Linked DNA regions of Homo sapiens: region 2 is linked to region 1. Evidence: fine-mapped expression QTL. Tissue or cell type: whole blood. Region 1 holds a variant in brackets; the other region holds the start of a gene. All regions are shown on one strand. Distances are between the middles of the regions.

The links. PIP is the estimated chance that this variant, and not a neighbour inherited with it, causes the effect.
Region 2: TEX264 starts here. The variant in region 1 is fine-mapped to the expression of TEX264 in whole blood (INTERVAL, PIP 0.98).

The regions. Positions count from the first base shown.
Region 1 is chr3:51,597,082-51,599,581 of GRCh38, reverse strand. The region is part of intron 3 of RAD54L2 (RAD54 like 2); the gene reads right to left. Among named protein-coding and RNA genes, the nearest start is that of RAD54L2, 60 kb to the right of the region's middle. The variant C/TAC (reference allele first, on the strand shown) is at 1,405.
Region 2 is chr3:51,669,683-51,672,424 of GRCh38, reverse strand. TEX264 (testis expressed 264, ER-phagy receptor) reads right to left here and starts at 1,173. Exons shown (of 5, transcript NM_015926.6): 1 at 1,137-1,173. It overlaps LOC124906237 (a long non-coding RNA gene), which reads left to right and starts at 1,320. Exons shown (of 2, transcript XR_007095907.1): 1 at 1,320-1,776. RefSeq lists a silencer at 1,008-1,437.

The DNA.
Region 1 (2,500 bases):
GAGACTCTGTCCCAAAAAAAAGAAAAGAAAAGAAAAGCTACTTGGATTATTTTTTTTCACATTTTTCCCACCTTTATTCAGGTTTGATTGTATACTATTTATATAAAACTAATAAAAATCAAGATAATGATCATGTGTCACCCCTGAAAGTTTTTCTTATGCCGCTTTAAAGTCCTTCTCTCCTCTCTCTGCCCCTAATCCTATCCCTAGAAAAGCACTAAGCTGCTTTCTGTCATTAAGGATTGGTTTGTATTTTCTAGACTTTTAATATAAATGGAATCACATGATGTATTCTCTCTTGCTCTCTCACTCTCTTTTGGAAAAACTCTAAAACCATGTTTTTCCTCTGCTCTCACACCACTACAACAACAATCATCACCACAGAAGACTTCTAGTGACCAAATGTGTGGAGATTTCTCCCCACCACCAAGCGACCAATTAATTCTGCAGTAGGTATCAGCTAGGTGTCCTCCAAATCAATTCTAACACTATCTACCTGGAAATTATGTCAGATAGTGTCAGATCCATTTAAGTGCTCAGTCACAAGACTGCCCCCCGACGCACACCAGTTGATAGGCTTCATGTTGGGGTTCCCATGAAGCCCTCTTTGGGTTCAATTAATTTGCTGGAACCACTCACAGAACTCAGAGAAATGTTTACTGGTTTATTATAAAGGATACAGATGAGGAGATGCTAGGGTAAGGGATGGGGGAAGGGGTGCAGAGCTTCCATACCCTCCCTTTGTGTGACACCCTCCAGAAACCTCCGCATGTTCAGCTATCCATAAGCTCTCCAAACTCAGTCCTCTAGGGTTTTTTGTTTGTTGGAGACAGAGTCTCGCTCTGTCACCCAGGCTATAGTGCAGTGGTACAATCTTGGCTCACTGCAGTCTCTGCCCCCTGGGTTCAAGCAATTCTCCTGCCTCAGCCTCCCGAGTAGCTGGGATTACAGGCGTGCACCACCATGCCCAGCTAATTTTTGTATTTTTTAGTAGAGACAGGGTTTCACCATATTGACCAGGCTGGTCTCGAACTCCTGGCCTCAGGTGATCCTCCCTCCTCAGCCTCCCAAAAGTGCTGTGATCCCCAAGTGCTGGGATTACAGGCGTGAGCCACCGCACCCATCCCCTCTAGGATTTTTATGGAAGCTTCATGTCAGTATTACTTCCCCCAGCGTATGAGTGGGACCCTCTCTGGAATGAGGGTCTTATGACCCATAATTAGAAAGGAGGGTTTGGAATTTTAGAGTCCTGCCTTGGGGCAGGTAAAAGGATGGCAGGAGTAGGTCAGAGAGATTCTGTTTCCTGAGGTCTCCCCCTGAGGCCTAACACATGCACCATTATAACAAAAGACTGTAACAAAGACTATGGGAGTTATAAGCCAAATATATATATATATATATATA[C/TAC]ACACACACACACACACACACACACACATATATATATACACACATATATATATATATACACACACACATATATATATATATATCATGGGTATTTTAGGCTTAATACCACATTCTTTCTCATTCTCTCTCTCACTCTCTTGCTCTTTTTCTTTCTCTCTCTCTCAGGAGTTCTGGCTTTCACTCAGCATAATTATTTTGATATTCATTCTTTTTTTTTTTTTTTTGAGACAAAGTCTCGCTCTGTAGCCCAGGCTGGAGTGCAGTGGCGTGATCTCGGCTCACCGCAACCTCCGCCTCCCAGGTTTAAGCGAATCTCCTGCCTCAGCCTCCAGAGTACCTGGGATTACAGGTGAGCACCACTGCATTCTGTCACCCAGGCTGGAGTGCAATGGCACGATCTCGGCTCGCTGCAACCACTGCCTCACGAGTTCAAGCGATCCTCGTTCTTCAGCCTCCCAAGTAGCTGAGACTACAGACATGGGCCACCATACCCAGCTAAGTTTTGTATTTTTAGTAGAGATGGGGTTTCTCCATGTTGGCCAGGCTGGTCTCTAACTCCTGACCTCAGGTGAACCACCTGCCTTGGCCTCCCAAGGTGCTGGAGTTACAGGCATGAGCCACCGCGCCCAGCCAAAATAGCTTATTTCATCTCAAAAAACGTATGTGAATTTTGATTTCTATGTCATAATTTTCATTATTAAAAACATTTAAATTCCTTACCAGTTAAAGTACCGAACCTCCTAACCTTGACACCACTTCACCAATCTTCCAGTAAAACTGACATTCTAACAAGTTTGTCAAGTTCATCCTAAAGCTCCATAAACTCCCAGTTACCCCCAACCACAAATGGAGGAACTAAGTTTGGAAATAAAACTCTTTGGCAAGCAGTCATTCTTAGAATAATCAGTAAGTTACTTATGTCTGTAGTTTCTGACCTGGACTTTGATTTGTTATAAAATTCTTGAGAAAAGCCCTAGGTTTTGTGGGGTTTTTTTTTTTTTTTTTTTTTTTTGAAATGAAGTCTTGCTCTTGTCCCCCAGGCTGGAGTGCAATAGCGCAATCTCGGCTCACTGTAACCTCCGCCTCCTGGGTTCAA
Region 2 (2,742 bases), 73 kb before region 1:
CTCAGAAAACGGCGGGGGGGAAGAAAACCCACCTGGGGGTCTCAGAGCCTTGGTCGGCACGTGGAGAGGTAACGTGAATTTCCCCTATATTCAAGAGAAAAGGAAGAAGGTCTGGGAGCTCACCTGAAATGCCAGGCTCACTTTTAGTAACTGCTGGCATCCAGTGCGGCAGGGGCCGAGCGCTCCAGTGCTGGGAGCTGAAAGAACAGTCACCCCTGCCCAGGAAATAACCACTGAGCCAACCATCATGCCCTGATTACCGTCCTCAGGGAAAGCCTACCGGTCCCTCTAAAGCACCCTCGTCCCATTCTCAAACCCCCTGTGGAAATCAGAAGCCAAACCTAGCTTTACAATGTCAGGTCTCTTCGCTAGAGCTCTGGTCACGCCCCTCTTCCTGGAGTACTCCAATCACACTTGGCGCCCAGAAACTGCCGCTGCCGCTGACCTTGGGCAGACTGCGCCCTCCCTCTAGCCTCGGCTCCCCCTCCGCTCAGAGGCCCGGGATGGACGCGTGCGGCCGGTGCCAGCGAGCCTCAGGGAAGGCTGCGCCCAGCCAGCTTCCTGGTGCCGCTCACGTGCGCGGCGGCGGAGGGCCGGGCCCTTAAACGGCCCCCGTCCTGGGCTAAACTTCGGTGCTAGCAGAGGGCGGAAGGACTATGGAGGGTGGGGGGCCGCCGCCTCCCACTTTCGGATTCCAGCCCCTGCTCACCCCGGGCCTTGCCTATTTACTCAGAGCCTTTCTCTTCGCCCACCTCCTCACGGAGCCCCACGCACGTCTGTAACTTAAAGGACGCTAAAGTTTGCAGCCCAGGCTGCGAGGCGCGGCCTTGGGGGACGGGGGCGGAGTTAAAACGCGACTCGCGCCTCTTTCCCTCACCTCCACGGCCCCGGGGCATGCCCTGCACCGGTGGCCGCGGAAGTGGGCTGCCCGGAAGAGTAGGGGCTGCCCCAAGGTCGCATCCAGGCCCTCGGACCTGGCCGAGGCCAGCTGTGGGCAAGACAAGATGCAAAGAGCGGCCCGGGCCGCGGGGGTCACGGAGGGGACACGGAGAGTCCTGAGGTCGCGCCAGGGCGGACAGGGGGAGTCCCAGACCTACGCCCCAGTGGGTATGCCTCTCCTCTGGCCCGGCCCTCACCTCAGCAGCCGCCCGCTGCGGACGCCGATCCGCGCAGGCGGCTCAGGGTTCGGTTACGGAGCCTGCGCGCGCCCGCCGCGCACGCTCGCTCCGCCCCCTCTCGCGGCGGGACATGGCCGTGGCCGTGGGCGCGTGCGCGCGGGACCCGGAGGGCGGAGGCCTGCCCCGCCCCGTCTCCATGGCAACGGGCGTGTGCCTAGCCCCAGCGCTGGCTGCGGCGGAACCCACGGCGTACCTTCCCGCCTCCAACAAACTATCCGGTTGCTGAGGTTGATTTAGCAACACCCCAGGGCATCTGGGTTGGCAGGAGCACCACAGTGACAGCCTGGCCCAGGCTCGGGTACGGGAGGCAGCCCAGTGGCCCGCAGTAGAGGGCCAGGCTGGGGACCAGGGAGCTGGGGCTGAGGAGAATTTGTACAGCCTAGGGAGGCGCAGCACAGCAGTATCAGCCTCTGGCATTTGTACCACCTTTAGTCCTGCCACTTTCTCTCACTGTGGCTTCGCAACAGACTTGGGAACCAAGAAAGGCATAGGTGAGGAAGCTGAAGCCCAGTCTGGGCTCGCGGAAGAAACTGGTGGATCCAACTTCTGCATAGCGCAAATATCTGCTTCCTGCCTCCACCCACCCATTCCCACTTCCGTGAGTATATTCATCCATCCAACACTTATTATTACTCCTTGCCAGGACAGTTCTAGGGGCTGGGGATAGAGTGAACAAAACCAAGGTTCTGCCCTCCTGGAGTTCACGTTCCATGGGAATGCCCTTCTTCCAGGCTCCTCCCTCAGTGCCCAGGTTGTGGCTGTGGGAGGCTGGTCTACCTTTGTGGTTTAGCGGTAACTTACGTGATTCCCACGTCAAGTGTAAGCTCCTTGATGATTGGTTCAATCTTCACCTCAAATTTCTGAGGACCTACAAACTACAAAGCACTCTTCTAGGGGCCCAAAGATAAAACGCTCCCCTCGTGAAAATCCCGGACTTTTGGTGGGAGGTGGGGAAGGTGACAACTATGCTCATAAGCTTGGCTACAAGACCGGCGAGGCCAAGAGCTACTTTGGTATCCTGACAAGGACTGATGTTTGGGAGGGGGATCCAGCAGATGGGAACACCACGAAGGTGGTGGTGGGAAAAGTCAGCAGTCACAGGGTGGTTCACCTTGTGGATCCCACTACTGCACCAGCAAAGAGCAGGCTGGGCACACAGAGACAGTCAAAATCCCAGCTTCCTTTCCCTCTGCTTCACATTCTTCCTTCCGCAGGCAGGGGAGTTTGAACCTTATCCACAGGGCCAAGCCTGTCCCAGCCCTCTAGGCAAACTGGCAGAACAGGCAGCTGGCCCCTCACAGGCACTCCGGGCTGGGCCAGTGCAGGTCGCAGCAGTTGTTTTACCTATGAACATCAAGCACATGGTCAAACCCTCAGCTTAGGTGCCCCAGGCAGGCGGGCTACACACTTGGTAGCATTTCCTTTGACACAAGGAGCAGCCATGGCCCGGGCTCAGAGACTGACAGCCTCTGCCTGCAGGGTCTGCGTGGTCATTTCTCCTGCTTCTCAGAAGGTGGTGAGCTTTTCCCAGGAAACCATTATAAGGAAGTGCCCATTCTTTATC